7 separate regions of the Homo sapiens genome follow, and all the other regions are reported to be linked to region 1. The links are microRNA targets in miRTarBase. Many come from high-throughput screens and were not tested one by one. Region 1 holds a microRNA gene; each other region holds the end of a gene's coding sequence.

Region 1 (4,265 bases):
GAGGGATAGGGACGCTCCCATTGTGCAAGAAGGAAGTATAGCCGGTTAACAGCTCCATCAAGTTCTACTAGAAGGAGTGCCTATGTAAATGAAATTCTGCTTTTAAAGTGCCTATTATATAAAGGTCTCTAGAAAACTCAAGCCCTGTTCTACAAGCCCTAGCAGCCTGACAATTCACTAAGCATAGGAGAAGGGAAAAAAAAGTAGGAAAAAAGTGTGGAAGCCCCTTTCTTCCTTTGTAATATGAATGTTTGGCTATATTTAAGATAAATACCACATAAATAATTGCTAAACGTGAATTCTGTTTTTCTAAGTTTTAACAAAATATGCAAAGAACAAAGACCACCAATGAAAGTGGATGGGAACATACGTATTCTACACACAGTTCCATTTTGGAAGGTTCTAGGGCCTATTGAAATTGGGTGTTTAAAAAAAAAAGATAACACAGGAAAATTATTGTAGTTTACCTCTGTCTCCTACAAGCTGATGTATTTGGCAGGGTTACTATTTCCCAGGGCAAAGCAGGTCTTTTTTTTCACGTTTTGACTAACGAACTAGAGGCTACTGCAAAGAAAGAAGAAAAAGAACAGTATTAACGCATTTATTTGCACAGCACCCCAATCTTGACCCTCAATTTTTTCAATCGCCCCCACAAATAAAGCCCGGCTGTTTAGACCTGGTGAACCGCCAGGAGCCTGGAGCTCTTTGTATTAAGCAGCTTCTCGGTTAGGGCGCCCTCCCCCGGCGCCATGCAACCAAACGCTGGCGGCGCGCTGTAACCTAAGGCCCACACCCGTCTTTTCTTTTCTAGGGGATGTGGAGACGCTGGTAGCGGGGCCAGGAAGGCTCCGGACGGAGCAGGTTTTCTGGACCACAGACACACTGCCCCGGCGCCCTCCGCAGGCCGCTCCTCCCCAGGCCCATGACAGTGCCCCGCTGGTTTCTGCCGCGCTGCCGGACTGGAGCTCAGACGGCCTTCGCCAGCCCCCCCAACCCACGCAGATCCCTGCTGACCTGGGCAACTCCCCACCCTCGCTGAAGGTTCGAGGACCACCCCGCTTTCCCGAGAGGAGCCGGGCGGCGGGTACTTATCTCCGACCTCCGGCTAGTGGGAAAGGCCGCGCGACCGCCCGTCCTCCAACTACAGGGACCGCACGGTACGCGCCAAGCACAGCCCCAAAATGGACTCGCGGCTCCGGCTAGCTCCGCCCCCTTCCCTCTCCCGCTTCCCCTTCCCCTCCCGTCCCTTCCCCCTCCCCTCCCGTCCCTTCCCCCTCCCCTCCCGTCCCTTCCCCCCTCCCCCTCCCTTTCCCCTCCCCCTCCCCCTCCCTTTCCCCTCCCCCTCCCCCTCCCTTCCCCGTCGCCCGCCTCCGCCTGCACCTCCGGCCCCGCCTCCCCGTCCCGCTTCGCCTGTGTCCCGCCTCCCCGGCCGCGCCTCGCCTTGGCGGAGGGAGCCGGGTGGTGAGACCGCGTTCCTTCCGGCGTCTCCAACCGCCGCCTGCTCCCGCCGTCCACCCGCGCGGGCCGCCTGGGACGGGGAGGGCCGGGCTGCGGGCTTTTCTCCCTTCCAGAGTCCTGCGCCCGCCCAAAGCCCCCCCGCAGAGGCTGGGCAGCGGCTCCGGGAAGTGGACGCCGTTTGCCCAGACGGTGGGCTCGACTGAAGCGGCGCGGTCCCGGGTGGGGCCGCCCGGGAAGAAAGTCTCCCAGTTAAGCTGCCGTGCAATTAAGATGGTTGGGTTTGGATTGTTGTACTTTTTTTTTTGTTCGTTGCATTTTTAGGAACAAAAAAAAAAGCCCAACCCTTCACACCACTTCATCCGCATCTCAAGACCAGAAGCCGACCCCAGCGGCTTGGGGAAATGGAGCCCCGCACCCCACAAGGGGGAGGGTGGGACGGGCACCTCCGCACTGCGCGGCCTGCGGAGTCACCGATTCGCGTTGGGAGCGCGCCAGGAGCGCCAGGGCTCTAGCCGGGGGCTCCGGGCAAGGCGCAACCAGAAAAGGGTTCAGTATCCCCCATCACCCCCACCCCCAACCGTACCCTCTTTCTTTGCGGGCTTTAGGCAGGACACCAGAGACCCAATTCTATTTAAAATTCTCTTTTAAGAAAAGGAACGCCTGTTTTTGCCTTTGGGGGAAAGGATGAACTTTCAAATTGGCTTTAAATTATCCACCACTAACAGTTACTCAGTCGATAACCTGACTATTCTGACGTCCACCTCCCGTTTGAGGACCTTGCCCAATAGCAAACGTACTAAGCACTTAACCAGTGAACGGTGTGAAGGATGCAAACATGGATGATGAAGGAATGGCTCCTCCAGAATTTACGATCTTGGGAGAAGTGAGGCGAGTATAGAATCTCAGAACACGCTGTAGGATTGAGTTCGATCCCAGTTGAGGAAGTTTGGGTTTGGGGAGGAAATAGGTTATTTTGGAGAAACGGTATTCAAAACCTACCATAAATAGCAGTACAGCCCGTTGACTAATAATGCTTAGCCCAACCCCCGTAAAAAGCCCCTGGCCACATCCGTCTCCTGAGATTCCCACTTCTCTGTGTGCATCTCCCTTCCTGCTATAAGAAACCTAACTTTGCCTTCGTAGAACACTTCTTTTAATTTCTGTCATTCAGTCTCATAACACTGTGTAAAAGAAATTATGATCTTCATCCTATATAGATGAGAAAACAGGTGAAGTGACTTTTCCAAGGTACAAAAGCAAGAGGCAGAGCTGAGGCTAAAGGCAGCTTCCAGATATGGGCTCTTTCTACAGCACCATAACTGTCAGTGACAAAACTGCACCCCAGTACCTTACTAAATTTAGTGTTTTTAGGCCAGGCACGGTGGCTCACGCCTGTAATCCCAGCACTTTGGGAGGTCGAGGCGGGCAGATCACCTGAGGTCAGGAGTTCCAGACCGGACTGACCAACATGGTGAAACCTGGTCTCTACTAAAAATACAAAAATTAGCCGGTCATGGTGCCGTATGCCTGTAGTCCCAGCTACTTGAGAGGCTGAGGCAGGAGAATAGCTTGAACCCGGGAGATGGAGGTTGCAGTGAGCCGAGATCCTACCACTGCACTCCAGCCTGGGCAACAGAGCAAGACTCCGTCTCAATAACTAAATTAATTAATTAATTTAGTGTTTCTAAAAAAACAAAGTGATCTGTAGAAACATCTCATTTATTTGTTGTCATTGTGTGTTGATTGATTTTGAGACAGGGTCTATCTCTGTCCCCCAGGCTGGAGTGCAGTAGCATGATCATGGCTCACTACAGCCTCAAGCCCCTGGGCCCAAGTTATCCTCCTCCCTTAGCCTCCCAAGTAGCTGGGACCACAGACATGCGCCACCACGCCTGGCTAATTTTATTTTTTGTAAAGATAGAGTCTCACTATGTTGCCCAGGCTGGTGTCAAACTCCTGGGCTCAAGTGTTCCTCAGGCCTCAGCCTCCCAAAGTGCTGGGATTACAGGCGTGAGCCACCACACCCAGCCATATGGAAACATTTCAGATATCCTAATATTAAAATGATATTTCACAAGACTGGACAGTTATTAACTCATGTGAAAGGAAAATCTTGGGGCCCCAAAATCACTAAGCTAAAGGAAAAAGTCAAGCTTCGGAGAACTGCTTAGGGCAAACCTGCCTCCCATTCTATTCAAAGTCATCCCTCTGCTCACTGAGATAAATGAATATCTGATTGCCTCCTTTGGAAAGGGTAACCAGAAACTCAAAAGAATGCAGTGATTTGCCTCTTATCTCCCTAAAACCTGGAAGCCCGCCCCCTGTTTTGAGTTGTCCCACCTTTGCTTCAAGTCGTCCCACCTTTTCTGGACTGAACCAGTGTTCATCTTACACACGCTGATTGATGTCTCGTGTCTTCCTAAAATGTACAAAACCAAACTGCTCTGACCACCTCGGGTTCTGACCTCCTGAAGCTGTATCATGGGCACGCATCCTCAACCGTGGCAAAATAAACTTTCTAAATTAACTGGGACATGGCTCAGATTTTTAGGGTTCACACGCAAAACCCACAAATTATCCTTAATATAATTATATAATATATATTTATGTAGTTAGATCTGGTTGGTGGTAGATACTAATACACTTTTGCCCAACTAAGTGTAAAACACATTAAATCTGTATAGCAATCTCTAGACTATTACACAAAATTAACTACTAACTAGAAAACACAGTATATTAAATTCTCTTAAGTGTGGAAAAATGGAGAAGGAAGAATAACCTTTTCTCTCCTCCCGTGGTCCTAATAC
Region 2 (4,265 bases), not on the chromosome of region 1:
GCCCCAGAACTGAGCCCACCTGAACTCATCTTGAAGGTAGGTATGTCAGTGAGTCCTCCCAAAGCCTCAGTTTCCCTATCTATAAAATGAGGAAGCAGGACTGCCCCTAGGGCAAGGCCTAGGCCTCCTGCCAGCCCACCCTCACAGACCCAGAGGGCAACGCAGGGTGAGGCGGGGCAGTTTCACTCCCCAGTGCTGTGGCCCCCTTGGTTGAGTGAAAGCACCTCCAGAGCCCTAACCCTAGCCCTGGGAGCCAGGCAAGAGACCCCCACAACGACCATCAGAGGTCGTGAGGGGTGGCAGGGAGCCTGGCAGGGAGCCAGGCAGGGGCCAGGGTCTAGGCTCAGAGCAGTGAAGGATAGATAGGGTCACATGCCAGTTAGTGGCAGAGGTGGGACTTGAACCCAGGCCTCTGTGAGACTTGGTTCTCTCACCTGTAAAATGGGTCTACTAGCAGCTGCTTCTCCAAGCAAATGATGTCAAGCACCCAGCTCGGCACCTCACAGATGTGGTCAGTAAATGGTAATCCCAACCCTACCCTTATATGTGGACTAGAACACTTATGGCAAGTCTCGGGAGGTCATGGGAACTCCTCATGGCTCCTTCTTCATGCTGGAGGACCACGGCCTGCCCCATCCCACCCCAACACACTCTTGAAACTGAGGCCCTCGGCCTAGAGCAGCTCACACAGACGTGGACAGCTGTGCTAGCAGGTGCAGAGTCTGGGAGGCGAGGCTGGACCAGGGCCCCAGCTGGGCTTCGGGTAACCACAGGCCTCAACTGTCCAGTTGGCCAGAGGGACCTATCACCTGGCTCTGGGCCCCAGGATGCTTTAGCCACTTGAGCCGGCTCCAGGTGACCGTGTAAGTGACATAAAGCAAAGGTGTCCTGGACTGCACCACTCACTAGCTCAGCACCCCAGGCACCAGGCTGGAAACCACATCTCGCACCCAATTCTCCATTTAAAAATTTTACAGGAAGGGGCCAGGCACAGTGGCTCATGCCTGTAATCCCAGCACTTTGGGAGGCCAAGGTGGGCAGATCACCTGAGGTCAGGAGTTCGAGACCAGCCTGGCCAACATGATAAAATCCCGTCTCTACTAAAAATACAAAAAATTAGCCAGGCGTGGTGGCGGGCGCCTGGAATCCCAGCTACTCGGGAGGCTGAGGCAGGAAAATCGCTTGAACTAGAGAGGCGGAGGTGGCAGTGAGCGGAGATCACGGCATTGCACTCCAGCCTGGGCGACAGGGTGAGACTACATCTCAAAAACAAAAAACTAAAATAATAAAATTTTACAGGAAGAGAAACTATGGCCACAGTGGGGAGTGGCATGACTCCCTAAGCAAGTTCAGGTCAGACAGGGCAAAGAATTCTGACTGCAGGGAGGAGGAATGGCTGGTTTTCCAGAGATAGATCAGAACAACAGAAGCTCCCTGTGCTCCAGCCTCGGCTGTGGTGCACTGACCTCTCACCCCAGGCAGGCTGAAGAGGAAACCCCTGCAGAGGTGGCCTTGGACACCTGGTTCCTGGAAGCAGCTGGCTGCCGTCATCTGCAGGGCCTGCAGTTCCACCGCACCCTATGGCCCCCTGGGGTCACAGCCTCCCACATCCGCTAACCAGCCTCATCACTTGTTTCCGCCAGCAAACCACAGGTCCCCAGAACACACCCAGGGGAAGGGGGCTGCAGGACCTTCTCCCCCAGTCAGTCACTGTCAGTGGGCCCAAGTGCTGACCTCAGTTTAGGTTTCCCTGACATAAGGTGCTAAGAAAAATCACAAGGATTCTAGGGTCCCTGCCAGCCCCTACCTCCCTGAGTCTGTTTCATTAAAAATCCAGCCTGGAAGGTGTGCCAGGGAGAGTGACCTGCTGGAACTCCATGGCAGAAAGTAAGGGGATGGATTGGGGCTGGGCCTGAGCCAGGTATTGCCTGGAAGACTTGGGCATCTGGGTACCACCGTCCCTACGCACCCTTGGCCTGCTTAGGGTCCACTGTTCCCATCCCATCGTAGCTGTTACTTCCTCCAAAAAATCTTCCGGGAGCCCCCAGTCCCTGCACACCCAGCTGCCCTGGACACTGTGCCGTAAGCACCTCATACCCAGCTGTCCCCAGACTGGGCTGTGAACTCAGCCAGGCCAGAGGCCCCTGTCTGGAATGGGACCAGGCATGCAGGAGGTACCCAATAACTGCTCGCTAATGCAGGGAATGAAGCAGCTGTAGCTGCAGGGCCTTCTAGCTCTGTAGCCCGCTCAGTGTATGCAAGTTCTGGAACGGGGACAGCCACTCAGGAGGTACCCAGTAACCAGGCACTAATGCAGGGAATGAAGCAGCTGTAGCTGCAGGGCCTTCTAGCTCTGCAGCAGCACTGCCCTGGCCTGACCTGAGGCAGCAGAACTGGTGAGTGGGGTGTGGGCTCCCAGCCCAGACTGCCCAAGTTTGGGTCCTGATCTGTTACTCGCTGTGCACCCTGGGGAAGTCACTCAGTGACCTGCACCCTGGAAGACAAGACAACCAACTGTTGGGGTTCCCGGGTACTGCTGCGGTCACCACTTAGACATCAGCATGGGCACCCAGTAAGCTGGTAATCCCCTCCTTCCCAATCAAGCCCCAGCCACCAAGGCAAAGCTCACTGCTGCTTTATTGGAGGCAACAGCCCCTACTGGAGCCTGTGTCTTAGCGTTCCTGGGGGTCCCAGGGCCAGCCCCGGCCCCCACCCAGCTGCCCTGGCCCTGCCTGGCTCCCAGCCCACTTAGGGGTGAGTGTGATGGGGGGACCAGTGTTCCTGTCCTTGGAGCCCAGGCACAGCTTGGTCCTGGGTTTCTGGGATTGGGACAGGGCAAGTTAGTGTGGGGCAACAGAGTCCCTTCGTCCTCTGGAGCCTGGCGCCTGGTTCAGCCCTAGAACCCAACCTGCTGGATGAGACTGGCTGGGTCCTACGAGATGTCCATCACAGAGGCCCTAGGCAAGCACAGCCTTGCTCCTGCTCACCCTCCCATGTGGGCCCATGTCCGTCTGTGTGGCCTGGGGTCAGGGCCCCTGTGACTGCCTTGGCCTGGCAGCCACATGGACTGCCATCACCTAGGCCCAGTGTAGCCGTAGGGGTGCCGCAGCAGCAGGCTCTGGTGGCTGGGCAGCACGTGGGTGTGGTAGTGCTCCACCATGCTGCCCACACTCACAAACAGGACCTCGCCCTCCAGGTAGAACTTAGAGTCCTGTGGGGGAAGAGAAGGGGGAGCGTCAGCAGGGCCAGGCCACTCTGCGGCTCTAGGCCTCAGTCTCCCCGTCTGTAAAACAAGGCAGCAGCATCAACAGCGGCATCACCAGGCTGGCCCCTGGCTGTCGGTGGTGCCCCCAAGGTGGCCTCCGCATCAGGCCTGTGCTCTCCATGTTCCCACCTCACTTCCCCTCCGTCCTCCATGTCCAGGAGCCTGCACCCAGAGCACTTCAGACAAGGTCAGGAAATGAACCTAGGCCAGGCACGGTGGCCCACGCCTGTAATCCCAGCACTGTGGGAGGCCGAGGTGGGAGGATTGCTTGAGCCCCAGAATTTGAAACCAGCCTGAGAAAGACAGTGAGACCCCTGTCCCCGCAAAAAGAAAAAGACAAGACAAGCAACCCAGGGTCTATGGCTGACCGCCCATCCCCACTAGGGTCAGTGGAGGACAAAGGTAGGCCACGAGAGGAGGGAGGCTGAGCAGGAGGGGTGGGGGGTGAGCGATGGTGGAGGGGAAGGGGAGGGCGGTATCCTGGAGGTGCCAGTCTCAGTCTACCCGCTGCCTATGCCTCATCAGGGAGATTCTGCCCTGCCCCTTGCCAGGCCATGCGGCCAGGGTCCCCGTCCCACTCAGAGCCCTCTCACCTTCTCAAAAATGCGATAGTTCCTCACTTTGTTAGAGGTTTCGTCCCACACAACCAGGACCTACAGGACGGAAGCGGGAGGCTGACGGCTCCCTGAGAAACAGCGGGACCAGCCTCGGGAGACCATGGGCTGGGGATAGGGGGGCAGAACCATCAAGGCTGGGTCCTGTGGCCCTCGGGGGGCGGGGAGGGACTCCAGACCACCTGCACAAGGACAGCGGGGGCGACACTGGCAGCCCTCAGAGAGCCTCTGATGAGCAACAGCTCATAACCACCAATAACCACTCCGACACACCCGGGAGAGCATGGCTCAGTGAGGTCACAACTTCACGCTCGGAGGGACACGGGCAGACCTGGCGTTCCCCTGCCCCATGTGGCCTCCGCCACCCCAGAGCATGAGCCCTACCC
Region 3 (4,265 bases), not on the chromosome of region 1:
CTTGAAGGAAGATATTTTGAAACTCTGATCTCATCCAGTTTTTGCCCACTAATTTCAGCATTCATCAGTGACTCTTCCTATCCTGTGATTATTGTGGTATTTGCTTAATGCTTTTCTGTTTCCATTGTTCCTTCTATTTTGATTAATTGGAATTCTACTTTAAGGAATAGCTATCTCTTCTCTCTCATTTATTTATGTCCCACCACTCTATGTCTTGTGCGTTATTGAGCTGTATGGGCAGACAAAGTAATGCAAATGCTCTGGAAATAAACTATCAAAACTTCTTTGCCCAGAATTTTAAAGCAAAAAATTAAAAGTTGTTTACATAAGAAACTGTTGACAAGTGTAAGTCTAGGACATGTCACTCACTATTTTGGTCTTTCTGTCTCTCTCTAGCTTAGAACAAAATATGGCAGATTTTTTTCACAAGCAATAGTTTAGTAGTTCAACTTTCATTAATTATTTCTAGTAATTACTTTCAGTATTGAAAATACTTACTGTTAATATTCATGTAAGTAACAAACATTTAAATAAGAAAAATAAATGTATTTTCATTTTCTAGGTGCCGGAGCAATTCTTATTCCTCGTTTAGACATTGTGATTTCCTTCGTTGGAGCTGTGAGCAGCAGCACATTGGCCCTAATCCTGCCACCTTTGGTTGAAATTCTTACATTTTCGAAGGAACATTATAATATATGGATGGTCCTGAAAAATATTTCTATAGCATTCACTGGAGTTGTTGGCTTCTTATTAGGTACATATATAACTGTTGAAGAAATTATTTATCCTACTCCCAAAGTTGTAGCTGGCACTCCACAGAGTCCTTTTCTAAATTTGAATTCAACATGCTTAACATCTGGTTTGAAATAGTAAAAGCAGAATCATGAGTCTTCTATTTTTGTCCCATTTCTGAAAATTATCAAGATAACTAGTAAAATACATTGCTATATACATAAAAATGGTAACAAACTCTGTTTTCTTTGGCACGATATTAATATTTTGGAAGTAATCATAACTCTTTACCAGTAGTGGTAAACCTATGAAAAATCCTTGCTTTTAAGTGTTAGCAATAGTTCAAAAAATTAAGTTCTGAAAATTGAAAAAATTAAAATGTAAAAAAATTAAAGAATAAAAATACTTCTATTATTCTTTTATCTCAGTAAGAAATACCTTAACCAAGTTATCTCTCTTTTATGCTACTCTTTTGCCACTCACTTGAGAACAGAATAGGATTTCAACAATAAGAGAATAAAATAAGAACATGTATAACAAAAAGCTCTCTCCAGATCATCCCTGTGAATGCCAAAGTAAACTTTATGTACAGTGTAAAAAAAAAAAATCTCAGTTATGTTTTTATTAGCCAAATTCTAATGATTGGCTCCTGGAAGTATAGAAAACTCCCATTAACATAATATAAGCATCAGAAAATTGCAAACACTAGAATTAATTTTACACTCTAATGGTAGTTGATCTTCATAGTCAAGAGGCACTGTTCAAGATCATGACTTAGTGTTTCAATGAAATTTGAAAAGGGACTTTAAAACTTATCCAGTGCAACTCCCTTGTTTTTCGTCAGAGGAAAAGGAGGCCTAGAAAGGTTAAGTAACTTGGTCGAGACCACTCAGCCTTGAGATCAAGAAAACCTAATCTTCTGACTCCCAGGCCAGGATGTTTTATTTCTCACATCATGTCCAAGAAAAAGAATAAATTATGTTCAGCTTAATTTTAGTGTTGAATCTATTTGATTATATTTTAATACTTTGAAAATGAATGTGTGATTTTTAATAGTATATGTGACCTGAGCAGAAAATCAGGGAACTCCAAGAAGCCTACACTGTGGCCATATAAACCTCAGCAAGAGAAAGAAGCTATGTTCTTTTAAAACAGAATAGAGACCGCTTGCTGGTGAAACTCCTGGCTAGTAAGATGTGTGTCTAGCTATACTATTTGTGGCTTGAGCTTTTTTAATTATTACCTTCCTTTCCTGAGTTTTGTAGGCACCACATTCCTGAATGGCAGAAAATAGACACCTCAGAAAACGGAGGATTTGTGGACTCTTTCCAGCCCTGTGGCTTTTCTTATCACAGCCTTTTATTTATTATGAGCAGAATAAAAGAATCAGCTAGGTGTGGTGGTCTGTGCTTATAATCCCAGCTACTCTGGAGGATAAGTTGGGAGGATCACTTGAGAGGCCAGGAGCTTGAGACCAGCCTGGGCAGCATAGTGAGACCTCGACTCTATAAAACATAAAAATTTAAAAAAAAATTAGCCTGATGTGGCGTGTACCTGTAGTCCCAGCTACTGAGGAGGCTGAAGCAGGAGGATCCCTCGAGCACAAAAGTTTCAGGCTGTGGTAAGCTATGACTGTGCCACTGCACACCAGCCTGAGTTACAGAGGGAGATCCCAACTCTTAAAAACTAAAACAACAATAAATATATACAAGAATCATAACATAAAGGGATTCATGCTTAGAAAAAATCCATAAACTCCCTTCTAAATATTGAGACACTCCAGGCTTCTTTCAGACAAATAACTTCTAATTATTCCATATTTTTCAAGTTATTAACCAAGATAAAGAATCTCTCAGTTAGTGGGGAAAATGAAAATTATTAAGAATAGAATTGTCTTCTGACTTTAAAAACAATTTAGACTTTAAAACATGAACTGTTTACTCAGGCTGGTGATACTCTAGTTTGTTAGTATACCATACTTGAAGATATCATCAAGATCACTATAGTTGTATATATTCTCTATTTTTATATGTAAATGTTAACTTAGTTCAAGTATTTTTTGCTTGTATCGTTAACTGATCATCAAATACAATCCTAAAGATATATCAGAAGCTTTATTTTGGTACAAAGTCATAAGAATCAAAACTTTTTTAACCATTCACATTAGGTATCAACAGTAATTGTTTGAGATACTTTTATATCAATTCTGTTACACTGAGCCTTTAGTCATACTAAGAGAATGCAGAAGAAGTTATAGGAAAACGAATCTTCACTGAAACTAGTATTATATAATCTTGAATTAGATGTTTAAAAAACTTTATAGCTTGATATAAAATGAGTTGAAAATTATTATTTAATAGGAAGCAGCATTAGATTTTTGTCACCTGTTTTCAGATAATATTTCTAGTCTATGTATGTTATTTAATTTTTACACTTTGGCCCATTGTTTATTTTCCTTAAGGAATTCATCAAATGCAATGAAATTTGAATAAAATTGATCATAGCAATAAATAATTTTTAAATTCAGCACAAACTCATCTTGAGTATATTATCAATCAGGCTTCCTTTAGCAATAAGAATGGTGAATCAACATCCAGTACTAAATTCAATAAATGATGAATACTTTAAATACAAGAAAAAGTTGAATTGCAGAAAAGAAGAGGGGCTAAAAAGGAAGAAAGTTTTAATTCTCAACAAGAAACACTATTTAGATGGAAAGCTTAAATGTATTCTTATTAAGGGTATTTGATGATGCATTTTATTTGCAAAAATAACCAGTGGGTAATTTTTTCTCTGAAAATTTAGCTTTAATAAGTCGTAAAATTTCCTAAAGATTTTGGAGACGATATTTCGATTATACCAGCTCTTGCTTTTATTTTGGGAGCCTGGAGAAATGAGAGTGATTGCACCTGTCAAATTTTGTATCTCATCACTTTTGGATCATCACACTGTGACTAAAATGACTTCAGCATTTTGTTGGCCACCACAGTGAAGAACTATTCCCTGAAAGTTAATCAGTTGCCTGAGAGACTTTTCTGCTACTGAGGGGAAAGAAAGGAAAGCTTTATTTACCTCTAATGAGCTCCGTTCCAAGTCAGTTAATCACTGTTCCCTTACACCCAAGAGTTTCATCAGTATCAGAGTCAACTTGTCAAAACACTGGTTCTCAGACGTTTTTTTCAGAGGGACTTCTTTTCCCCACATGGCCAGATTTCTTTACAATTAAGAAAATAAGAGCTACAGCGTATTCTTGGTTAAAAACCAGTTTAGATGATGTTACCAAATGAAAACAAGTCTGTATTAGCAAATGCCACATTATATTTAGTCGTATTCTCACTAAATTCTCCGTTATTAAAATGATTTCTGCATCTTGCCTGGAAAATGCACTTACATATTTACAAGCGTTGTATGTCAATGTGCATGTTTTGAATTTCCTAACAGTGTCTAATCTTAGTAGTTTCATAGTAGTTATGTAAAATCTCTTTAACTGCAAAATACTATAAAATATTACTTGAAATATTAAAGTATTAGTG
Region 4 (4,220 bases), not on the chromosome of region 1:
GCTGAGGCTGAGGCAGAGAATCTTCCAGATGATAAACCCCAGCAGCCGACTCGACCCCAGGAGCAGAGTACAGGAGACACCATGGGGAGAGACCCTGGTGTGTCCTTCAAGGTAAATGAGAGATGGAACAGGTGGGCATGGGCTGGCAGGTGGAGACAGAAGCTGGGAGATTGGCCTTACCCACTGTCTATACTGTATTTCTCCAAGGCTGTTGGTCTACAACCTGCTGGAGATGTAAATTTGCCATGACTTCCTGGAGGACAGCAGCATGGAGAAAGATCCTAGAAAAGGTCAGACCCAACTCAGGCCTTGGTGTCCCTGGACTGCAAGTGTGGAAGGAGGGAAAGCCTGGTTTACCTCTCTCTGCATCTGAGCTCTGCTACCCATGGAGCAGATGGATGGTGGGAACAGGAAAGAGCTTATGTTACACCTCATTCCCATGCTTAGCCCACCCAGAGCTAACCCCTGTCTTCTTCCCCAGGCCTCTGACTTCCCTCACCTCCCAACCATCATTACAGGAAAGACTGTGAACTCCTGAGTTCAGCTTGATTTCTGACTACATCCCAGCAAGCTCTGGCATCTGTGGATTAAAATCCCTGGATCTCTCTCAGTTGTGTATTTGTTCATCTTCATATGCTGGCAGGAACAACTATTAATACAGATACTCAGAAGCCAATAACATGACAGGAGCTGGGACTGGTTTGAACACAGGGTGTGCAGATGGGGAGGGGGTACTGGCCTTGGGCCTCCTATGATGCAGACATGGTGAATTTAATTCAAGGAGGAGGAGAATGTTTTAGGCAGGTGGTTATATGTGGGAAGATAATTTTATTCATGGATCCAAATGTTTGTTGAGTCCTTTCTTTGTGCTAAGGTTCTTGCGGTGAACCAGAATTATAACAGTGAGCTCATCTGACTGTTTTAGGATGTACAGCCTAGTGTTAACATTCTTGGTATCTTTTTGTGCCTTATCTAAAACATTTCTCGATCACTGGTTTCAGATGTTCATTTATTATATTCTTTTCAAAGATTCAGAGATTGGCTTTTGTCATCCACTATTGTATGTTTTGTTTCATTGACCTCTAGTGATACCTTGATCTTTCCCACTTTCTGTTTTCGGATTGGAGAAGATGTACCTTTTTTGTCAACTCTTACTTTTATCAGATGATCAACTCACGTATTTGGATCTTTATTTGTTTTCTCAAATAAATATTTAAGGTTATACATTTCTTCTGACTTCCTTTATTTTCACAATCATTCAATTCATAGCATTTCCTATATTCTGTTATAATTATTTCATTGATTCATAAATTTCTTTGAAAAATAATTTGGTCTTCTATTGATTGTGAGAAGATAATCTAAGTTTAATTTGGTCAGAGAATATCATCTGTTTAATAAACTTTGAAATTTGGTGAGTGAATTATCTTTTTTACTGATAAAGAGTGATGTCATCTTTTTTAATGTTTCACATAGGTTTGGAAAGAATGCATTTTAGATTGTGTGTAGTATTTTCTATTAGATTATGTTTGCAATTTTTGTTTCAATTTATATCTTATATACTTAATTTTTTGTTGTCTGTCACCTGAGAGGTGTGTTCAAATCTCCAACTATGATAGTGGATTTGTGCATTTGTCTTTATAGTTCCATTTTCTTACATACTTTGCAGTTACTTTATTAAGGTATATGTAAATTTACATTTATATTTTTCTTCTGAACTGAACTCTTTGTGTGGTAGCCTGCTTCATCTATAGGCTAATGTGTTTAACCTTGAAAACTACTAGTTTTAATATTAATATAACTGTCAATTCTTTTGGTTACCCTTTGCTTGACATCCTTTCTCTTGAATTTCCATTCTTTTTTAGTTTCAACCTTTCTTTATATTTACCACTTGTATACAGCATTTAAAGGGTTATTTATAAAAAAAAAAAAAACTCTTGTCACATTTGTCTTTATGATTTTCTAGTTGTGTCAATTTTTTATTTGCTTTCTCTTGGCTTTTTATTTATCCCTTTCATGCCTTTTATTTTTTATTGTTTCTTCATGCTTTTTGTTGTTTGTTTGTTTAGAAGGTCTAATTTAGACCGGCTAGTTTAGCTTTCATAGTTAGCAATGTCTCAAGTTATTTAAAGAATTAAAGACTCTTCATCCTTTTCTTAATAAATGAAGCCTAAACAGCTGTAACCATTGATAGATCATCCCACTCTAAACTATTAAGGTATTTTTGTCCAGTTTATTACTTCTAGCCTGTTTGTGTTCTCATAAATTAATTTTTTAAATTATTTTATACAGTCAATGCTTTATTACTAATTTATTTACTATTTTTGCCCACATTATTTTTACATTTCAGAGCTTTCATGTGGAATACTTTTTCCATCTGAAATAAATGTCTCAGAATTTCCCTTAGAGTTTGCAGACTGTATAATGTTTTAAATTTTACTATGAAAATATTTTTATTTCATCCTTATTCTTGAGAAATGTTTTTATTATGTAGAGAATGCTTGGTAGGCAGTTTGACTTAACACATTGAAGATTAACTCAACTGATTCTCTGGTCATCTGGTTTTGATCCTTGATGATGAGAAGTCAACTGTCAGTTTAAAAGCCCTTCCTATGCATTTTTTTACCCAGTTAGTGCTTTTAACACCTGTATTTAGTGCTCTATAGTTTTACTATATTGTGAATAGTTTGGGACTCTGGTTTACTTATTTATTCATTCATTCTGCTTGCAAATAGTTGAGCTTTCTAAATTGCCACTCTTTCAACAATTCTGGAATATTTTCAGTTTATCTGTTTAAAAAACACCTCTTTTGTATTAGCTTATTCTAAAATGCCAATTAGACATCAATCAAATTTTCTAACTTTTTTCTTCATGTCATGCAAACTTTCTTTTGTAGTTACCATTGCTCTTTCTGAGATTGCATTCTAGATGCTTTTTCTATTTTAACTTTATATAGCCAAGCTATTGTTTTTTCATCAGTTTCTTAATTTTTGATCTTTGATTTTCATTTCAATAAGTTGTATTAGATCTCAATTTACTACTGCTTTTGAATATTTTCTTCTGGCTTACATTTTGAGCTTTTTAAATTTTTTTTTTTAATTCTTGATGTATTTGACTACATAGTAGGTATACATACGAGCTTATTTTTTATTATCTTAATATATGGACACTTCATTATCTTTTTTGGAAAGGTTCATAATATATAACTTTATTGGCCTATCTCTCATACTCCCTGTTTAATATAGTTCATGTAGTTTTACTTTGAGCTGCCTATTTTTCCTAAATTTTACCGTTACGGCCTGATACAAAATTGAGAGAATTTGTGTTAACTTCTGTCAATAGCTTGTGGGCATTACCTGTATAACTCTTAGAAATGTTAAAATGAGTGTTTTTAATGTTTTTTATATTTGTGTGCTATCCCATTTTTCATTCCTGTTGTTTATTTTCTTTCTTATTAGTATTTCCCAAAGGCCTTTTTTCTACTTTATATGTCTTTCAAAAACACAGGTATTGGCATTATTTTCTTTAATGTTGCTTTTAATACATTCTTTTAATTATTTTTTGTCTTTATTCCCTTCTGCTCTAATTTTTAATATTTGTAGGATTTTTAAAAATTAATATTTGATAATACATATGTTCTTTTTTATAGTCCAACAAACGCATTTACATATTTACATTTTTATTTGACCACCACTCTGAGAATAATTCATATATTTTAATACATAGGCTATTGATTATTTCTAAATAGATTATAATTTTAGTATTGATTTTATTTTAAATCAAGGAGGTTTCCTTTGTTGCCCTTGCCTCTCAAATGTATTTGTAATAGTGTTTAGTTCCTCAATGGATTTAAGATAATTTTGTTATTTTTAATGCACCAAATTTTGTAATCTTACTGTTACTTCTTTTATTCCATTTGCTTCAAATGGTATCACACCTCTGAATATTGTTCCTTAAAATTTATTAGTTACATATAGGCTTATGTATATGTGTAGTCATTATATATGTTCTTATAGGGAAGAGATTTTATCATTTTTGTTCATCACTAAACCCACAAGTTCAAGAAAAATACTGATAGAGGGTAGATCCACAAACATTGGTGGAAATGTAAATGGTTGCCAAAAATGAAAAAGGAACACAATGCATACAGGAGGTATTCCAAATTTTTAAGTGTGTCTTGGAAGTTTGTATGAGATTTCACAGAGGTAACACCCCAAAAAAAT
Region 5 (4,265 bases), not on the chromosome of region 1:
AGCCTGGGGCCAGCTGGTAATGACATGGCCTGTTTTCTGTCGAGGAGAATGAGGAAAATGGGGAGCAGGAGGCTGACAATGAGGTAGACGAAGAAGAGGAAGAAGGTGGGGAGGAAGAGGAGGAGGAAGAAGAAGGTGATGGTGAGTAGCCTTGTCTATCTTCCCCTTTTCAGGTACTTTTTCCTGGCCTTGTCTGGCAGAAGGGGAAGGAAGGAATTGGGGCTCCTGGGAGTGGGACAATGGTACTTGGGGCCAGTGGACCACATGGCCCTGGGCACCCACCTGTAGAGTCAGGGAAGGTCTCCCTGACATGGAGTTGTGCCCATGCCCACTCACACTCACTCGCACACCTGAAAGTTTCTTTCGTGCAGCTCTGAAAGCCACTGATCTATTGGGCTGGCCTTTTGGGGTGCAGCTGCTTGGGCCTCTCTCCTCTGGAGAGTCCCACCTGTGTAGTGGGCGTGGGTGCCCTGATTGGGCCCAGTTGCAGGCAGTAGAGGCAGGGCAGGGACCTTGCAGTCCACTACATGTTCCTCGGGATTTCCCCAGGAGCCACAGTAGGAGGGAAGTGTGGTTTACCTGGCCTTTGATTCTCTCCAGGTGAGGAAGAGGATGGAGATGAAGATGAGGAAGCTGAGTCAGCTACGGGCAAGCGGGCAGCTGAAGATGATGAGGTGGGTTCTGGCTTGAGAAGAAGGGGGGTTTGGCATCTGGGTCTCCCCACCTGCCTTTAGCTGAGGTGCTCAAGCTGCGGAGGGACTGTTTCTGACTTTGTAGGTGGCCACTGTGTGGTCCTGAATCTTAAGAACAGGAAGGAAACAGGGCTGGGCTCAACTTCCCAGAGGCCTTGGGCTGTGGAGCTGGGGGTCCCTGGTTCTTGCTCTGCCAGCAGGAGCTGAGGCAGTGGGCTGGATAGGGCTCCTGGGGTTGGAGGGGCCTTTGACAGTCTTTCTCTGCTTAGGATGACGATGTCGATACCAAGAAGCAGAAGACCGACGAGGATGACTAGACAGCAAAAAAGGAAAAGTTAAACTAAAAAAAAAAAGGCCGCCGTGACCTATTCACCCTCCACTTCCCGTCTCAGAATCTAAACGTGGTCACCTTCGAGTAGAGAGGCCCGCCCGCCCACCGTGGGCAGTGCCACCCGCAGATGACACGCGCTCTCCACCACCCAACCCAAACCATGAGAATTTGCAACAGGGGAGGAAAAAAGAACCAAAACTTCCAAGGCCCTGCTTTTTTTCTTAAAAGTACTTTAAAAAGGAAATTTGTTTGTATTTTTTATTTACATTTTATATTTTTGTACATATTGTTAGGGTCAGCCATTTTTAATGATCTCGGATGACCAAACCAGCCTTCGGAGCGTTCTCTGTCCTACTTCTGACTTTACTTGTGGTGTGACCATGTTCATTATAATCTCAAAGGAGAAAAAAAACCTTGTAAAAAAAGCAAAAATGACAACAGAAAAACAATCTTATTCCGAGCATTCCAGTAACTTTTTTGTGTATGTACTTAGCTGTACTATAAGTAGTTGGTTTGTATGAGATGGTTAAAAAGGCCAAAGATAAAAGGTTTCTTTTTTTTTCCTTTTTTGTCTATGAAGTTGCTGTTTATTTTTTTTGGCCTGTTTGATGTATGTGTGAAACAATGTTGTCCAACAATAAACAGGAATTTTATTTTGCTGAGTTGTTCTAACAAAGCTGTCTCAAGCCTGGTTTTTCTGTTTCAGTTTCTTCAGACCTTCCAGGGCACAAGGATAGGAGGGGGAGGATCCTGGGGACAGTGGGTTGACATTTTGGGAGGCAGTTGGATGTGTCCTGTGATGGGCAGCAGAGTCTGGTGGGTGGGCAGGGACTGAGCTGCAGTTGGCTGGGGGGGCTGCTCACTGGGGCAGTCAGTGATTGCCCCAAGAAGCCTTAACTGGGGAGGAGGACTTCATCACTGGGTGCCACATGGGGACCCTGGTGCCCTGGGGGTGGGGGTTTGCAGTCCTAGACACTGGAAACGGGCCACACGGGACTGCCATTATGTGGAGCGCAGGGTGCTGGTGGTATAGGCCAAGAGGGAACTTGCCAAGCCTCCCAGGATGAGCGTCCAAGTGGTGGCTGCCTCTGCAGGCCTCACAGGTTTAGCTCCATGACGTGGCTCCCCCTGCTGGTGGCACGTGGTACCCCCCGGCCTCTTAGAATGCCGGGGTTTTGGTTTGGCACTGGTGCAGCCTGGCAGTCATCCAACCTTTGGTCTCCAGGTCCCTTAGGTTAGTTGGGCAGGCCCACCCTGCCCCTTGAACACAGTTGGAGAAGTTACTGTGCCGTTTGGATATTCATACACGGGCTGTGAGCAGTGGGTCAGGATAGCCAACTGGAGGAAGTGCCACCAGCTCGTGCCCTCAGAGGTGGAGGTAAGGATTAGAGCTCACCTAGAACCTTCTGGGATCCTCCAATGAGAGCTGCAGGGGCAGGGGCCGGTATAGGCACTGCTAGTGGGCCTGTTGCCCAGGTAGGACCTGAGGAAGCCATCCAGTGGTATCTGCAGGAAAACTCCCAGGAGCAGACTGAAGTGTCTGCAGAGGCCTGGCCTGGGTTAAGGGGAGATGCTGGGAAGGAGGGAAATGTGTGCATTGAAGAGAGCAAGAGAGACCAGTTCCCTCTACCTGCCCCTTGACACCGTGTCCACCCCATTCCATGCCCCCCCGACCTTTGTGTTTCACACCAGGCACCAGAGTTCTGGGGGGACCTTTCCCTTCTCTGGCTGGAGCTTAGTCACTCTCATGGGGCTGCTCAGGCCGCTTGTTCAGCATGTCCCCAGGCAGCTGCCACCAGGATCGGGGGCAGGTTGAGGCCTTGGTAGGAGGGACCCTCTGACCTGTATCTACCCCACACCCCCTGCACAGCCTGGGTATCTGCATCCTGGCTCATCCAGGGAAGAAAGGGAGGGTCTGGAGCCAAAACGCTGGCTCCTCTCTGTTCTGCCGCCCAAGGCGACTCAGTACTGCAGTGTTCCCAAGCTCGGCGCCCAGGAGGGTGTCTCTAAGGCAGGAGTGCAGGCGAAGGCCGTGAAGGAAGGCCACACAGGGCAGGTAGCGCTTGGAGCTGAGAGCAGATCTAACCCAGCTCCCTCAGGCTGCAGTCCTGCTCGGGACCACTACCGCAAGGCCCCTGAAAGGGGAGAAGCTGTGCCCTGGTCCGCACACAGACACGGCAGGCATGTTAGCATGAGGCAAGTAACTGAACCTTGTGGGCTTCAATCCCCTCCTCTGCAAAATGGGAACAATAGGATGAGGCATGAGCCAGGGCCCAGGGCTGCCTTGCTAGGGTCCCCCTGAGACACCCATATCAGCAGAGCTTACTGCCTCTGCTGTCTGAGCTGCCTCATCCCACCAAAGGTTTGGCCTGGAACAGCATTTGCTGGTTCTAGCAGAACACACTTACCCCTAGTCCTGAGCCTAGCACACAATTAACCACTGCCTGAGGATATACCTCAGGGCCCAGAGTCACCTTGATACCACTCCCAAAGTCCCCGAATGACCTCCCACTGGAGCCCAGGTTAAAAGATTATCAAGGAATGGGCGCCCCCTGGTGGACACAGAGGAACTGTAAAGCGTGCCGCTGAATTCTGTCCAGGAAAGACCCTTCAGTGGGCCCTGGTCCCAAGGTAGGCAACGCCAGTCACCCTCCACCTGACTCCCGCAACAAGACCTTTCTCCCTCTCTGTTGCTGGAACCCCAGTCAGATGTGACAGTCAGTGGTCATTTCCCAGACCTTCCTTCTGGGCAACTGATGCCCTCTCCCAAGGACTGAGTCCTTTACGTGGAACCAAAGCTGGAAGCAGGGGTCCACTCTTCCACGGTCTTGGGCTTCCCTGTGGCCACACACACCCTCACTGGACTCCACGCACCCTCACTGGACTCCATGCACCCTCACTGGACTCCATGCACCCTCACTGGACTCCATGCACCCTCACTCACTGGACTCCATACTGCCTCAGCAGACTCCACACTCTCTCACTGGACTCCCTGCTCCCTCACTCACTGGACTCCACGCACCCTCACTCACTGGACTCCACGCACCCTCACTGGACTCCACGCACCCTTACTCACTGGACTCCACACATCTTCACTGGACTCCACACATCCTCAGTGGACTCCACACATTCTCACTGGACTCTACAGACCCTCACTGGACTCCACGCTCCCTCACTGGACTCCACACTCCTTCACTGGACTCCACACACCCTCACTGGGACTGCTGCCCTGAGTACAAACT
Region 6 (4,265 bases), not on the chromosome of region 1:
TTTCTTCCCAATATTTTGTTTGCTGTCTAGTGATCTACTGACTTCACAATGTCTGAAATCAGATTCACCAATCTCACTTGGGATCAAGTTATAACACTGGATCAAGTGTTAGATGAAGTAATTCCAATTCATGGAAAGGGGAATTTCCCCACAATGGAGGTAAAACCAAAAGACATCATTCATGTTGTGAAAGATCAACTCATAGGGCAAGGAATTATTGTTAAAGATGCCAGATTGAATGGTTCCGTAGCAAGTTACATACTTGCAAGCCACAATGGAATCAGCTATAAGGATCTGGACGTTATTTTTGGTGTTGAGCTTCCAGGTAACGAAGAATTTCAGGTTGTTAAAGATGCAGTTCTAGACTGTCTACTTGACTTTTTACCAAAAGATGTAAAGAAGGAAAAGCTCTCCCCAGATATCATGAAAGACGCTTACGTACAGAAATTGGTCAAGGTTTGCAATGGGCATGATTGTTGGAGTCTTATCTCCCTTTCAAATAACACTGGGAAGAATTTAGAACTAAAATTTGTGAGTTCACTCAGACGGCAGTTTGAATTTAGTGTAGATTCCTTTCAAATTGTTTTGGATCCCATGTTAGACTTCTACAGTGACAAAAATGCCAAGCTAACCAAAGAATCCTATCCTGTTGTGGTAGCTGAAAGCATGTATGGAGACTTCCAGGAAGCAATGACACATTTGCAACACAAGCTCATATGTACCAGGAAACCTGAAGAGATTAGAGGTGGTGGCCTTCTGAAGTACTGCAGCTTGCTGGTTCATGGCTTCAAGCCAGCCTGTATGTCAGAAATCAAAAACCTAGAACGTTATATGTGCTCTAGATTCTTTATTGATTTTCCTCATATAGAAGAACAGCAAAAGAAAATTGAATCATACCTCCACAACCATTTCATAGGTGAAGGAATGACCAAGTATGACTACCTTATGACCTTGCATGGAGTTGTGAATGAAAGCACTGTTTGCCTCATGAGTTATGAAAGAAGACAGATTCTCCACCTGATCACCATGATGGCTTTGAAAGTACTTGGAGAACTAAATATTCTACCCAATACACAAAAGGTAACTTGCTTTTATCAGCCTGCTCCGTACTTTGCAGCTGAGGCAAGGTACCCTATTTATGTAATACCTGAGCCACCCCCCGTTAGCTTCCAGCCATACCACCCACTGCACTTTCGTGGATCAAATGGTATGAGTTAAAAAATACACATGCAACCATAGAAACTTTGATTTAATTAAACACCATTTAAAAGCAAGTTTCCAAATGTAAAATTCAAGATCTGTTTTTATTTTTGTACAGTTACCAATTATTTTCAATTACAGTTGATGGAATAGTAGTTACCAACTATTTTTGATCAATTAAGCCATCATAGTAAATACAATATCTATAAACCAACCACTTTAAATGTTTTTCAAACGTTATTGACTAGCTATAATAACTTTCAAATGTTGTGTTCCCCTTGAAGTGATTTTCAAATCTTTTGACTACTTGTGACTTTCAAATTTACTGTGACAAATATATTAGAGATGCCTGCATCTTTGACTATAACATAAAAGGACAGATTCATGTTTTAAAATTAAGATGTACAGTGAAGTATCAAATTTTTTATATTCAGTCAGTTCCTTTGTTACATTTAGTTCTTTTTTTCTATTGAACAATACCATCAATAAATGTTCAGTACTTAACAGAAATGCCTAATTTCAAAAGCAACAGATTCAGAAGACATTAAAACCCTGGACTTTTCAAGCATTTTTTTTTGACAATTAAATTGGGTTGGATACAAAAATCCTACTATAGTTTAAAGGAATACTGGAAAAAAATGGTTCTGGAAAGCCCTGGACATTAGTAATTTGTCATCTATATAATAAAACATTTAGTTAATTTGTGGATTTGAATAACAATACCATACAGCTGTGCAACTACTACTGAGATCAGATACAGGGTTTTTTGCCCCTCAAAATAAGTTAAAACGAATGAAAATGACCAGCTCTGAATGTGAAAGCTTTCTATCATCATCTACTACAAAGAGACTCTAAATGGCAAACAGGAAAAAAACAGGCAGAGGTTTATAGCCATAGCATTTACCATTTTATGGCTTATTTGAAAAACATCTTTATGTTGAGAAACATTCCATTTCAGTAAGTTAAAATATTTTCATTGTAACTAAATGAAGCAGGTTTTTCATTTTGCCTTTACCAAAGATCATTTTCTAACATGCCACTCAAGTGCCTCTTCGTGTGAATTTTTGCGTAACACTATAATTTATTCAACAACTGTATACCTTTACAGTATATCTAAATATATACTTACTACATCGAGTATACTGCTAGAAAAATCTACCAGTGGGATTAAAAATGTATTTTCTTCCCATAATGAAAATAATTCATGACCAATATTACCTGAAGTGTCAGAAGAGGAGCTGTCTTAAATTAATATGGATCAGGCCATTGGAAAACTTCAGTATTTCCACTTGGTTATGATTTTTTGTGAGTTTCCATTTCAGTTTTTATTGACCATCACGTTTTCTATCACAACATGACCTGACAGTTGTATCCCGATAATTTGCCAGTTATAGACTGTGCTTATCTTCACTGTATTACAATATTGGACAGAAGTACACCAAATACGGCATTTTCAAATAACCAATATTTCTGAGATGTTTTATACCACAGCACAAGTGGCCATCAGTATATTTTTAAAGAATTATATATCACAGAACCCTGAGGCTTTAAAACACTATGGACTTACCACTTTCTTGACAAAGAATTTGTAATTACAATAAAATATTTAGAAATGAAAGGACTATGATTGTGATGTCATGGGTATAGATTCAGTAGGTTCAATATTTTCCAGAGTGGTATTTGACACTGAATAGCAGAATTCTGAAGCTATTTGGAAATATCTCATACCCCATGTGCTCCCATAGCTTTCTTTGATCCCATTGAGAATTTAAACTCCTTCTTTCCTAAAAAGCAAATTATTTATGGTATTCTCCTAAAGCTTTAAGTCCTGATGGAAGAATGGCCTGAAAGCTAGGTATGTTCTCCTAACATTTTAAGCATGTATTTCCCTTGTAACAGCAAAGCTCTCAGAACTGCTATCTATGATTTTCTCAAGAGAAAGAATTTAAACCTCTTGAATGGGGATGGTATCACTGAAGAAAAAGCTGTAGCTTTATTTCTCATGGCTTGCTTTCTATAGATACCGTTACCAAGCTAGTACTTTGCTCCCAACCAACCAGAAAAATATCAGTCTTCAATAGTGTATGAATATCTCTCCAGGATTAGGCTAGTTCCCTTGAGAAGGAGTATTATTTCATTCTGCTGATTAGGGTAGTAAATGGAAAAGTTTTTCTGTAAATTAATGAATGCTAGCCTCTTTGCCAAAAGGAGTTAATAGAAGTTATTTTTTTAAAAACCCTACTCTAAAGCATATGACATCCCATTACCAAAGAGAAACAGTATTATCTTTGCCTGTTTAATATGTAGCCATTTTATTTTGTACAAACGCAATACTGAGTCTTGGTTTAGGAAGTTTTTTTTTTTCAGGAACCTAACCAAAACCAAAAAAGAAAGCAATTTTTAATATAATTCTAACATTCATATCTGTGAGACAAATTTTGTCAGCTACAGATACATATTTTTTAAACCAGAATATTCTTGTATTTCAAAAATATCCACACATTATTATCAAACTTCTACAAGTAGGGTATTTATAACTTTTAAAGTTTTATATATTCTTCTAATAGTGACTCATGCCCAATTTAGTTGAACAGAATTGAAAGAGAAGGATTAACTAGTTGATTTAATTTAGAGAAAAGCCATCTAAATTCAAGACAAAAATATCAGAGCTAGAAATGTCAACTTCCCCTCAAAACTCGGAAAGCCTTCTGTGCCCAAATTCCATCTTCTTACATCAGCAAAGATCTATTAAAATACATTCAAATTAGAGAGTTTAACATTTGTCTTTAAAGTCACAGTTTAGTTATGCATTGATAAAAATAAGATGAAAAATGCCTCAGATACAATTAAAAATCCTTTTTATTCAGTGCATCTATTACCTGGAAGTAGTCGTTCAACTTTAAAAATATGGGAAGTTAAAGCATATAATTGAGAACATTGTTGAAGTTTTAAAGTTTCCAATACTTTTCAAAATTACATTGATTTAAGAGCGCATATGTCTCACTCATTGAAGATTTTCAGAAATATAACTTACATTGTAAATTAACATTAAAACAGGATTGGGA
Region 7 (4,234 bases), not on the chromosome of region 1:
AATGTTTGCTGCTTAGAGATGTTCTGCAGCTATAATTTATGGAAAATAAGTGTTAAATGATTCAAATAGACAACAAAATATACGTATCTTAAAATTTTTTTTTTAGCATTTATGAGACCAGTACAAACTACTCAAGAGGAAGATGGCTGTAGCTGCCGATTTCCAGAAGAAGAAGAAGGAGGATGTGAACTGTGAAATGGAAGTCAATAGGGCTGTTGGGACTTTCTTGAAAAGAAGCAAGGAAATATGAGTCATCCGCTATCACAGCTTTCAAAAGCAAGAACACCATCCTACATAATACCCAGGATTCCCCCAACACACGTTCTTTTCTAAATGCCAATGAGTTGGCCTTTAAAAATGCACCACTTTTTTTTTTTTTTTGACAGGGTCTCACTCTGTCACCCAGGCTGGAGTGCAGTGGCACCACCATGGCTCTCTGCAGCCTTGACCTCTGGGAGCTCAAGTGATCCTCCTGCCTCAGTCTCCTGAGTAGCTGGAACTACAAGGAAGGGCCACCACACCTGACTAACTTTTTTGTTTTTTGTTTGGTAAAGATGGCATTTCACCATGTTGTACAGGCTGGTCTCAAACTCCTAGGTTCACTTTGGCCTCCCAAAGTGCTGGGATTACAGACATGAACTGCCAGGCCCGGCCAAAATAATGCACCACTTTTAACAGAACAGACAGATGAGGACAGAGCTGGTGATAAAAAAAAAAAAAAAAAAGCATTTTCTAGATACCACTTAACAGGTTTGAGCTAGTTTTTTTGAAATCCAAAGAAAATTATAGTTTAAATTCAATTACATAGTCCAGTGGTCCAACTATAATTATAATCAAAATCAATGCAGGTTTGTTTTTTGGTGCTAATATGACATATGACAATAAGCCACGAGGTGCAGTAAGTACCCGACTAAAGTTTCCGTGGGTTCTGTCATGTAACACGACATGCTCCACCGTCAGGGGGGAGTATGAGCAGAGTGCCTGAGTTTAGGGTCAAGGACAAAAAACCTCAGGCCTGGAGGAAGTTTTGGAAAGAGTTCAAGTGTCTGTATATCCTATGGTCTTCTCCATCCTCACACCTTCTGCCTTTGTCCTGCTCCCTTTTAAGCCAGGTTACATTCTAAAAATTCTTAACTTTTAACATAATATTTTATACCAAAGCCAATAAATGAACTGCATATGATAGGTATGAAGTACAGTGAGAAAATTAACACCTGTGAGCTCATTGTCCTACCACAGCACTAGAGTGGGGGCCGCCAAACTCCCATGGCCAAACCTGGTGCACCATTTGCCTTTGTTTGTCTGTTGGTTTGCTTGAGACAGTCTTGCTCTGTTGCCCAGGCTGGAATGGAGTGGCTATTCACAGGCACAATCATAGCACACTTTAGCCTTAAACTCCTGGGCTCAAGTGATCCACCCGCCTCAGTCTCCCAAGTAGCTGGGATTACAGGTGCAAACCTGGCATGCCTGCCATTGTTTGGCTTATGATCTAAGGATAGCTTTTTAAATTTTATTCATTTTATTTTTTTTTGAGACAGTGTCTCACTCTGTCTCCCAGGCTGGAGTACAGTGGTACAATCTTGGATCACCGCCTCCCAGTTTCAAGTGATCTCCCTGCCTCAGCCTCCTAAGTAGCTGGGACTACAGGTATGTGCCACCACGCCTGGCTAATTTTTATATTTTTAGTAGAGACGGGGTTTCACCATGTTGTCCAGGCTGGTCTCAAACTCCTGACCTCAGGTGATCTGCCCACCTCTGCCTCCCAAAGTGCTGGGATTACAGGCATGAGCCACCATGCCTGGCCATTTCTTACACTTTTGTATGACATGCCTATTGCAAGCTTGCGTGCCTCTGTCCCATGTTATTTTACTCTGGGATTTAGGTGGAGGGAGCAGCTTCTATTTGGAACATTGGCCATCGCATGGCAAATGGGTATCTGTCACTTCTGCTCCTATTTAGTTGGTTCTACTATAACCTTTAGAGCAAATCCTGCAGCCAAGCCAGGCATCAATAGGGCAGAAAAGTATATTCTGTAAATAGGGGTGAGGAGAAGATATTTCTGAACAATAGTCTACTGCAGTACCAAATTGCTTTTCAAAGTGGCTGTTCTAATGTACTCCCGTCAGTCATATAAGTGTCATGTAAGTATCCCATTGATCCACATCCTTGCTACCCTCTGGTACTATCAGGTGCCCTTAATTTTGCCAAGCCAGTGGGTATAGAATGAGATCTCACTGTGGTCTTAGTTTGCATTTGCTTGGTTACTGATGAGCACCTTGTCAAATATTTATATACCATTTGTGTTTATTTTTTTAAATAAAATGCTTGCTCATGCTTTTTTGCCCATTTGCAAAAAAACTTGGGGCCGGGTGCAGTGGCTCATGCCTGTAGTCCCAGCTCTTTGGGAGGCCAAGGTGGGCAGATCGCTTGAGCCCAGGAGTTCGAGACCAGCCTTGGCAACATGGCGAAACCCTGTCTTTACAAAAAATACAAAAATTAGCCGGGTGTGGTGGTGTGCACCTGAAGTCCCAGCTACTCAGTAGGTTCGCTTTGAGCCTGGGAGGCAGAGGTTGCAGTGAGCTGGGACCGCATCACTACACTTCAGCCTGGGCAACAGAGAAAAACCTTTTCTCAGAAACAAACAAACCCAAATGTGGTTGTTTGTCCTGATTCCTAAAAGGTCTTTATGTATTCTAGATAATAATCTTTGGTCAGTTATATGTGTTAAAAAATATCTTCTTTGTGGCCAGGCACGGTAGCTCACACCTGTAATCCCAGCACTTTGCGGGGCTGAGGTGGGTGGATCATCTGAGGTCAAGAGTTCAAGATCAGCCTGGCCAACACAGTGAAACCCCATCTCTACTAAACATGTACAAAACTTAGCTGGGTATGGTGGCGGGTGCCTGTAACCCCAGCTGCTCCAGAGGCTGTGGCAGAAGAATCGCTTGAACCCAGGAGGCAGAGGTTGCAGCGAGCCAAGATTGTGCCATTGCACTCCAGACTGGGTGACAAGAGTGAAATTCTGCCTATCTATCTATCTATCTATCTATATCTATATATATATATATATATATCCTTTGTAATTTATTTTTCCCTTTTTAAAATTTTTTATAAAATTCTTTTTTATTTTTATTTTTAGCAGAGGTGAGGTTTCTGAGGTTTCATTATGTTGCCCAGGCTGGTCTTGAACTCCTGAGCTCAAGTGATCCTCCCACCTCAGCCTTCCAAAGTGCTGGAATTGCAGACATGAGCCACCGCGCCCCTCCTGTTTTTCTCTAATTAATGGTGTCTTTCTTTGTCTTTCTGGTAATAAGCAAAAAGTTCTTCATTTGATTTGGTTAAATTTATAACTGTTTTCTCATATGGTTAACATTTTTTCTTGCCTGGCTAAAGAAATCCTTTTCTGCCCAATACTATAAAGAGGTTTGCCCACATTTTATTCCAAAAGTTTTAAGTTTTGTCTTTCATCTTGAAGTCTAATGTATCAGGAACTGGCTTTTGTGCCTGTTGGGAGGTAGTGATCCAATTCCATGTCTTGCATGTAGGTAACCACTGGTCCCTGCGCCATGTATTCAATACGTCGTCTTTCTCCTGCGGGTCTGCAATCTCACCTACCATCCATCAAGTTTCCATAGGGCCATGGGTCTGCTTCTGGGCTCCCTGTTCTGTTCCATTGTCAATTTGTCTATCCTGTGCCAGTATCACACTGTGTTTATTACAATAGCTTTGTAACAGCTCTCGATATCCGGTAGGACATCTCCCTCCACCTTCTTTTTCTACTTCAGAAGTGTCTTAGCTAGGTCAGGCACGGTGGCTCACGCCTGTAATCCCAGCACTTTGGGAGGCCGACGCGGATGGATCACCTGAGGTCAGGAGTTTTGAGACAGCCTGGCCAACATGGTGAAACCCCATCTCTACTAAAAAATACAAAAATTAGTCAGGCATGGTGGCATGTGCCTGTAATCCCAGCTATTTGGGAGGCTGAGGCCGGAGAATTGCTTGAACCCGGGGGGCGGAGGTTGCAGTGAGCCGAGATCGTACCATTGCACTCCAGCCTGGGTGACAGAGCGAAACTCTGTCTCAGGAAAAAAAAGAAAAGAGATGTCTTGGTTATTCTTGGTTCTTTATTATTCAATATAAATTTTAGAAGCTGAATTTGAAAAGATTTGGATTGGAATTTCATTAAATCTACAGGTCAATTTAGGGAGAGTTGATAATTTTACAGAATTGAGTC

The links. The annotated mature microRNA hsa-miR-3613-3p reads ACAAAAAAAAAAGCCCAACCCUUC and lies in region 1 at 1,782-1,805, shown strand. An mRNA with a match to its seed (bases 2 to 7 or 8) in the 3' UTR can be bound and repressed. Matches are read on the target gene's strand: a 7mer-m8 pairs with bases 2 to 8, a 7mer-A1 pairs with bases 2 to 7 and ends in A, and an 8mer does both.
Region 2: the mRNA of SH3BP2 is a reported target of hsa-miR-3613-3p. Seed matches in the 3' UTR shown: 7mer-m8 at 2,024-2,030, 7mer-m8 at 1,271-1,277, 7mer-A1 at 1,264-1,270 and 7mer-m8 at 1,110-1,116.
Region 3: the mRNA of SLC36A4 is a reported target of hsa-miR-3613-3p. Seed matches in the 3' UTR shown: 7mer-m8 at 2,788-2,794.
Region 4: the mRNA of ZWINT is a reported target of hsa-miR-3613-3p. Seed matches in the 3' UTR shown: 7mer-m8 at 1,138-1,144.
Region 5: the mRNA of PTMA is a reported target of hsa-miR-3613-3p. Seed matches in the 3' UTR shown: 7mer-m8 at 1,497-1,503, 7mer-m8 at 1,588-1,594 and 7mer-m8 at 1,616-1,622.
Region 6: miRTarBase lists TENT5D as a target of hsa-miR-3613-3p. Seed matches in the 3' UTR shown: 7mer-A1 at 1,367-1,373, 8mer at 1,772-1,779, 7mer-m8 at 1,963-1,969 and 7mer-m8 at 2,500-2,506.
Region 7: the mRNA of TNFRSF9 is a reported target of hsa-miR-3613-3p. Seed matches in the 3' UTR shown: 8mer at 376-383, 7mer-m8 at 531-537, 7mer-m8 at 538-544, 8mer at 763-770, 7mer-m8 at 854-860, 8mer at 1,526-1,533 and 1 more.

What each region holds. Positions count from the first base shown.
Region 1 is chr13:49,993,966-49,998,230 of GRCh38, reverse strand. MIR3613 (microRNA 3613) reads left to right here and starts at 1,730; the gene lies at 1,730-1,816. TRIM13 (tripartite motif containing 13) reads right to left here and starts at 1,189. Exons shown (of 2, transcript NM_213590.3): 1 at 468-1,189. It overlaps DLEU2 (deleted in lymphocytic leukemia 2), which reads left to right. Exons shown (of 14, transcript NR_152566.1): 11 at 812-1,157. RefSeq lists silencers at 1,453-1,582, 2,173-2,222 and an enhancer at 1,763-1,892.
Region 2 is chr4:2,832,643-2,836,907 of GRCh38, reverse strand. SH3BP2 (SH3 domain binding protein 2) reads right to left here. Exons shown (of 13, transcript NM_001122681.2): 12 at 3,859-3,918; 13 at 1-3,211. The coding sequence ends at 3,074. Among named protein-coding and RNA genes, the nearest start is that of ADD1, 9.1 kb to the left of the region's middle. RefSeq lists enhancers at 1,370-1,419, 1,680-1,759.
Region 3 is chr11:93,145,142-93,149,406 of GRCh38, reverse strand. SLC36A4 (solute carrier family 36 member 4) reads left to right here. Exons shown (of 11, transcript NM_152313.4): 11 at 563-4,265. The coding sequence ends at 870. Among named protein-coding and RNA genes, the nearest start is that of SLC36A4, 51 kb to the left of the region's middle.
Region 4 is chr10:56,354,447-56,358,666 of GRCh38, reverse strand. It overlaps ZWINT (ZW10 interacting kinetochore protein), which reads left to right. Exons shown (of 9, transcript NM_007057.4): 7 at 1-111; 8 at 208-290; 9 at 482-1,440. The coding sequence ends at 249. Among named protein-coding and RNA genes, the nearest start is that of ZWINT, 4.7 kb to the left of the region's middle.
Region 5 is chr2:231,711,843-231,716,107 of GRCh38, forward strand. It overlaps PTMA (prothymosin alpha), which reads left to right. Exons shown (of 5, transcript NM_002823.5): 3 at 48-141; 4 at 601-674; 5 at 962-1,709. The coding sequence ends at 1,009. It overlaps MIR1244-1 (microRNA 1244-1), which reads left to right and starts at 1,472; the gene lies at 1,472-1,556. RefSeq lists enhancers at 357-857, 2,660-2,819, 2,829-3,358, 3,359-3,888, 3,450-3,689 and 1 more and a silencer at 2,877-3,171.
Region 6 is chrX:80,442,492-80,446,756 of GRCh38, forward strand. TENT5D (terminal nucleotidyltransferase 5D) reads left to right here. Exons shown (of 3, transcript NM_152630.5): 3 at 31-2,818. The coding sequence starts at 49. The coding sequence ends at 1,218. Among named protein-coding and RNA genes, the nearest start is that of TENT5D, 24 kb to the left of the region's middle.
Region 7 is chr1:7,916,796-7,921,029 of GRCh38, reverse strand. TNFRSF9 (TNF receptor superfamily member 9) reads left to right here. Exons shown (of 8, transcript NM_001561.6): 8 at 107-4,234. The coding sequence ends at 195. Among named protein-coding and RNA genes, the nearest start is that of TNFRSF9, 22 kb to the left of the region's middle.